Regions from separate parts of the Homo sapiens genome. Here region 2 is reported to be linked to region 1. The links are microRNA targets in miRTarBase. Many come from high-throughput screens and were not tested one by one. Region 1 holds a microRNA gene; the other region holds the end of a gene's coding sequence.
What was found. The annotated mature microRNA hsa-miR-130b-3p reads CAGUGCAAUGAUGAAAGGGCAU and lies in region 1 at 1,207-1,228, shown strand. An mRNA with a match to its seed (bases 2 to 7 or 8) in the 3' UTR can be bound and repressed. Matches are read on the target gene's strand: a 7mer-m8 pairs with bases 2 to 8, a 7mer-A1 pairs with bases 2 to 7 and ends in A, and an 8mer does both.

Region 1 (3,584 bases):
TGCTAAGGAGTCGGGGGCCCGGCCCCTCCGACTGTCAGCGGGTTAAAGATGGAGCCGGCAGGCGAGGGGCCGCCACGAGGTGCAGGGTCGTCTGGACGGGGACCCGGGGGCAGACGATGGCCGGGATCCTCTTCCGTCTAACCCTCCGCGTCCTGACCGGGCCCTGGGCGGAAGGGATGTCTGCGTGAGTCAGCTGTGTCTGAGGAGGGGATCCTGGGCTGGGCTGGGCGGCCCTACTCGGCGGGTCAGGCGGAGGGGCGCGGCCGGGATCCCGGGGGCCCTCTTTGGAGCAGGGAACTCTAGAAGGGCGGGGAGCCCCCATCCTCTGCTCCACTCTGGGCCTCCAGGCAGAAGAATATGTTAGAAAAGAATCCAGAGTGTATCTAGTGCAGGGCAAGGGGCCAGGGATGGAGTCGTCAGCTAGAAGGGGCGCGTCGTCCCGGGGTGGGGCCGCCCTTTTTCTCCTGGAGCCGCGGGCCGAGTCAGGGCGCAGGGTCGTCGGGCTGTACCCACCCCGCTCCGGGCGCTAGCCGGCTTTGGACTGCGGCTGAGTGCGGGTTCGTCTTTGTGTGTGCGCCCCCTCCCCTGCGTGGCCCGTCAGCTCCTGCTCCGGGATTGGAACAACCCCCTAGTCTGGGGTTTCTCCTCCACCTCAATCCGGAGCGTTCTGGGAAAGGCCTGGGTGTCCTGGGTTCTGAAGACCCCAGGGACGCACCCCGCTGCGGTCTCCTTCCCTGCCCGGATGGACTGGACGGGGGCTCTGCCCCACCCACCCATCCATGGTTGAGCTTCCCGCCCTGCGTGTATTGGGGGTGGTGGGGTCCCCCCTGCTGGCCGCAGGTGCTCTGACGAGGTTGCACTACTGTGCTCTGAGAAGCAGTGCAATGATATTGTCAAAGCATCTGGGACCAGCCTTGGGGATCTCCCTCCCTATAACCCTCACCTCCCACTCCCCAGGCAGGGCCCCTTGGGCTTGCAGGCCCTCCCCTCCCCCCTACCCAATTCGCTCCCTTCTCCATGGAAACTTGAGATTCTAGACAGGCCTGGGCCTCTGGGGTCAGAGGGCACCCTTTCCCCCCGGGCAGAGGCCCCGCCCCAGCCAGCCTGCATTCCAGGTCTCAGATCCCTGCAGACCACCCTGGGGGAGGCACTGGCAGGCCTGCCCGACACTCTTTCCCTGTTGCACTACTATAGGCCGCTGGGAAGCAGTGCAATGATGAAAGGGCATCGGTCAGGTCCAGCCTGCTACCCTGGGAGGGGGAAAGGGAGCTTGCTGCCTCACTCCACTTTCCAGTTGAGAAGGTTGAGGTGCCCAGAGGGTAAGTGTTTCCACTGATTAGGCACAGATGTGAAGCTGGACTGGACCCTCCATCAGAGGATCAGGTGGGTGCAGAGCTGGAGAATCATCCCTAAACTCTCCATCCTGTCATGGCTGGACAGGTGCAGGAGCAGACCTCCCCAGCTTCTGAAAAGCTCTTGTTTGAAGGTCTTTCCACATTGGGTCCCTGGGGTAAGACTGGAACTCCAGGCCTGGTCAGGGTCTTAGGGGAAATACACGCCCAGTCTTTTGCATGGAAGATCATTCTAGGCCTGGCTTGGGCCCAGTCCTTGCTGGAAGCTTGAACAGGGCCAGGCTCTGGAGAGAATGTTCTTCTGGGTGGCAGTTGGGTAAGGGGGTAAGGCAGGCCTTTCAGGAGGCAGCCTTCACCCCAGGACGTCAGCTGGAGTGGTACTATGGACTGACCAGTTGACTGATCAGTTGAGTGGACTCAGCTGGAGTGGTACTATGTGAGATGGATGGGTGGACTTGGGATACAAAGCCTGCAAATGATGTCTACCAACCATGCCAGTTTGTTCTCTTACAGAGAGGTGTGCCCTGAACCTGCAGGAGGGACTGAGGTGTCTAACATTCCAACCGTCCCAGCTGGAATACAGGGTTGGAGCTGAACTTCCAAGGAGCCTGACCCCAGGCATGCTTGGATGACCACCTCTACCATCAAGACCTGACACGGTGCAAAAGGTTTCTACGTGCCCAGTCACAGTCATTCAAATCTTCTTTAGAGGAGGACTAGGTTTCCAGATGGGCTTTTGGGAGTTCCCCTCATCCCTAGCTGGGCGCATTGGGAAACTGCTTTACCCCTACCCTGGGGAGAGAAGCCCTGGCACCCGTGGGAGGAACAGGGGCAATGACACATGCTCCTTGGCTTCCTAGTCCTGATCCCTTGGGGTTCCTTGATCCTAGGGTCATCTGACTTAGATCCATCCTCCCTTCCTCTAGGCACCAGGGGCCATGGCTGGAGGTGGCCACCCCTCAGTCCTGTACAGATTCTGTACCCACTGGCTGGAGACCCCCATGCAGCTGTCTCCTGCTCTTGCTGCGGGGAGACTGAACTCAGGGCTCTGCTCACTGGCTCCCTCCCAATGGAAGCCTTCTCTGGGCTTCACAGCATTGAATATTCCTCCAGAACAGCTTGTTAAATCAAATTTTTTTTTTTTTAGATGGAGTCTTGCTCTGTCGCCCAGGCTGGAGTGCAGTGGCACGATCTTGGCTCACTGCAAACTCCGCCTCCCGGGTTTAAGCGATTCTCCTGCCTCGGCCTCCCGAATAGCTGGGACTACAGGTGCTACCACACCCAGTAATTTTTGTATTTTTAGTAGAAACGGGGATTCACTATGTTGGCCAGGCTAGTCTCGAACTCCTGACCTCATGATCTGCCCTTCTGGGCCTCCCAAAGTGCTGGGATTACAGGCATGAGCCACCGCACCCGGCCTAAATCAAAATGTTCTCCCTGTGGCAGAAGTGTCCATTAGACTGGGAGCCCCTGAGGCAGAGACAACTGTCATTTAAAAAATCTCTGGCCAGGCGCAGTGGCTCATGCCTGTAATCCCAGCACTTTGGGAGGCCGAGGCAGGTGGATCACCTAAGTTCGGGAGTTTGAGACCAGCCTGACCAACATGGAGAAACCCCATCTCTACTAAATATACAAAATTAGGCTGGGCGCAGTGGCTCACGCCTGTAATCCCATCACTTTGGGAGGCTGAGACAGGTGGGTCCAAGGTCAGGAGTTCAAGACCAGCCTGGCCAAGATGGTGAAACCCCATCTCTACTAAAAACACACACACACACACACAAAAATTAGCCGGGTGTGGTGGTGGGCACCTGTAATCCCAGCTACTAGGGAGGCTGAGGCAGAGAACTGCTTGAACCCGGAAGGCAGAGGTTGCAGTGAGCCAAGATCGCGCCACTGCACTCCAACCTGGACAACAGGGCAAGACTCCCTCTTGAAAATATAAAAAATAAATATACAAAATTAGCCAGGTATGGTGGCGCATGCCTGTAATCCCAGCTACTCAGGAGGCTGAGGCAGGAGAATCACTTGAATCCAGGAGGGAGAGGTTGCGGTGAGCTGAGATTGCGCCATTGCACTCCAGCCTAGGCAACAAGAGGGAAACTCCGTCTCAAAAAAAAAAAAAAAAATCTCTTGGCAGTGTCTGACAAAGAGGAGGGGCCCAATAACCCCCCACCCTTTTTTTGAGACGGAGTTTCGCTCTTGTTGCCCAGGCTGGAGTGCAATGGTGCAATC
Region 2 (3,000 bases), not on the chromosome of region 1:
TGCTGGAGCTGGCCAGACCCCCCCACTTGCCTGTGAGTGGCCAGAAACAGCTGCCAGAGGCCCCCAGTGCTTCTCCCGTCCTCTCCCAGTGGCCAAGGGCCCCGGGAGGGCTACTGCAGCAACACTAGGAGATCTAGCACCTGTGGCTGCCTGTGCTCCTGGGAGGGGCTTCAGGTGATGTGGCGTGCCACCCCGTCCCCACACAGCTCAACCTTGGGTGCTCTGGCTGTGAGCATTTGTGGGGAAGGGATGGGAGTATCCATTGATGGGCAGGGTGGGTGCTTTAGCCTTCACTCCATCTTCCATGGTGTCACTGGCCGCCGCCTTCCTCCCACAGGGGAGAAGCCCTATGCCTGCTCGCACTGCAGCAGGGCCTTTGCCGACCGCTCCAACCTTCGGGCCCATCTGCAAACGCACTCAGACGCCAAGAAGTACCGGTGCCGGCGCTGCACCAAGACCTTCTCCCGCATGTCCCTCCTGGCGCGGCATGAGGAGTCTGGCTGCTGCCCGGGCCCCTGAGAGGCACGTGGTCGGCGCAGGTAGGAGGGATGGTCCTCACCGGGAGAGCTGGCGTCCCTCCTGCCCCCAGAGGAGCCAGGAGTCTGGGAGGGCGGGGCCTGGCCTCACACTTGGTGCGTCCTCCACATCTGCGTCCAATCAGAACCAAAGAAGTCCAGCGGGGGCCACTGGGCCGGAGGACACTCCCCCAGGCATCCCACCGCGCGGAGCCCACTCAGAGGAGACTCCTCTCCCGGGGAAGGCTTTCATCAGAACAAGAGCCATGGTTCCATTTCGACACGGCCAGGTCTCCGGGGCTACCCTTCCAAGAGTCAGAGCCTCGGGGAGGTGGCCGCCAGCATGGGCCGGCACTGCCGCCGGATGGCTGGCAAGGCTGCCTAGTTCCATTGCAGCAGAAATGAACAGTTCTGACTTATAGTGAGCACCGCCCTGTGGCCCTTCCTCAGTAGGCACAACTACCTCTCAGCCAGCCCCCGCCAGCCTTTGGTTTGGGGTCTGGGACGAGCTGCCCCATGTCACACGTCTATGTGCATGTGCACACACACTCAAACATGTACACACACGTGCCCTCCCCACCTCACTAGACTCTCCGGGAGATGGGGCAGGACTGGGAGAGCCCACGATTGGTGATTTGGGTGTGTTGGGATGAGGCGGAGTGCCTGTGGGATTTGTCCCGGTCAGAGCCTCAGGGGGCTGGGGTCTCAGGGCACTCAGCTTCCCAGGCAATAACAGCCGTGGGGTAATAAATGGTCTCTGCACACCTGCATGTTCCGTTCTTCGAAGCTTTGAGTCTTGGCCAATCCCCTGGTTCTGTGGAGGAGGTGGGACTCTGAGAAACTCCCTGAGACAGCAGGATTTGGGGATCGCCTGGGGCCTTTAGCCACCAAGTAGGCAGGAGACTCTGGGTCAGGGCCTGCCACTGTGAAAAACTCTTCTGAGAGGTGGGGACACTGCCAGTGGGTGAGCAGGGGCGCCACTGTGGGCAGAAGCCAGCGCAGGAGTGGGAGAGTGTCCCATGGCACAGAGGAATGGCCAAGAGGCTCCAGCTGGTGCCGGGTAGAGGGCCAAGACCAAGGCCGGGGCAGGCGTTGTGCAGCTGGGGGCAGCGAGTCCTCCCTGCTGCCTGGTCAGAACAGAGGACTCAGGGCTCCTGCTGCAGCCCTCAAGCGCTGCGAGGGTCTGACATGATCACTGCTGTCTTGCAGAGGGTCTGGGCCTCTGTCCACCCATGGTACCTGGGGCATCCGTGAACTGGAATCCCAGACCCTTGCCCTGCCCTGTTGAGACACTGTGCCAAATCGACATGGTTGCCTACACTCAAGACCCCCCTCCCTGGAGTCCTGCTCCCACCATCCAGTGGGGTGGTGGCGTTTCCTTCTTACACGTGGCCTCTTCTCACCGCCGAGCTGTTGGGCGGCCGCCCACTGGGCTGGTCCTCCTCTTCCCAGCATGTCTCAGCCTCTCCAGCTCAACCCCAGGGGCAGCGTCCAGGAAGGAGCAAGGAGGCCCCTCCTAGTCCCTGACACCTTCGCTGATGGGGATGGTGGAAGGGAGGTTTCTGGGAGCGGACACCTGTCCCTCAGGAGGGCTGGGCCGCTGTCAGCTGCCCTGCTTCTGGCTGCAGACAGGAAGACATCATTGTCCTGGTCCTGGAATGGAGCCACGTGGAGAGCGGCAAGCGCTCCCCTTGCTCCCAGAGCCCACTGAGCCTCCCGTCCATCCGTCTGTCCATGAGACTATTCAGGGGGGCTCACAGGGACCACACATGAAGCACCTTGTTGCTCAGCCACTTGGCTGCTCCAGTCCCAACCCGGGCAGTGGGAGCCCCACTCGGGGCAGCCCCGCCTGCAGATCAGCCTGGCTAACACCTGCCAGGTGCTGACGGGCCCTTGGGCAGATGGCTTGACGACACCTGTTTGAAGAGCCTTGGGGACATCCCAGAGGAAGCTTGACCTAGACCTTGGGCTCCGCTGGATCAAGGGTGACCTTGAGTAAACCGGCTCCCCAGAAGAGCTTGGGCTCCAGCCGCTACCAGTCTCCACGTGAGCTGGCGAAGTGAAGACACTGAGAAAGCCTCTCTCACCTTCCTGGACCGGGACCACTGCCTCCCCTACAGGGATTGGCCGTCCCCAGAGAGGGAGGCACCCACTCAGCTGCCATAACAAAGCACCCCAGCCTGAGTGGCCGAAACAACAGAGTTTCATTCTCCCCCAGTCCTGGAGGCTGGAAGTCCCAGATCCAGGTGAAGGCAGGGCTGGTTCCTTCAGAGGCTGTGAGGGCGGGGCTGTTCCAGGCTTTCTTGTGGCTTTGGGAGTCCCGTGGCATCTCCCTGTGTGTGTCTGTTTCTGTCTCTCCTCTTCTTATGAGGATACAGTCATGTTGCCCTGCTCCAGGAGGCCCCCATCTTAACTCATGACATCTGCAAAGCCTCTACTTCCAAATATGGTCACAAGCGGAGGGCCCGAAAATTAGGACTTCAAC

Region 2: miRTarBase lists SNAI3 as a target of hsa-miR-130b-3p. The part of its 3' UTR that is shown has no 7-base or 8-base seed match.

Annotation. Positions count from the first base shown.
Region 1 is chr22:21,652,148-21,655,731 of GRCh38, forward strand. It overlaps MIR130B (microRNA 130b), which reads left to right and starts at 1,157; the gene lies at 1,157-1,238. MIR301B (microRNA 301b) reads left to right here and starts at 834; the gene lies at 834-911. It also overlaps the pseudogene LOC107985532. RefSeq lists enhancers at 1-289, 290-961, 498-547.
Region 2 is chr16:88,675,967-88,678,966 of GRCh38, reverse strand. SNAI3 (snail family transcriptional repressor 3) reads left to right here. Exons shown (of 3, transcript NM_178310.4): 3 at 338-1,279. The coding sequence ends at 519. All of the region lies in intron 3 of SNAI3-AS1 (SNAI3 antisense RNA 1), which reads right to left. Among named protein-coding and RNA genes, the nearest start is that of SNAI3, 9.0 kb to the left of the region's middle. RefSeq lists enhancers at 1-676, 677-1,434.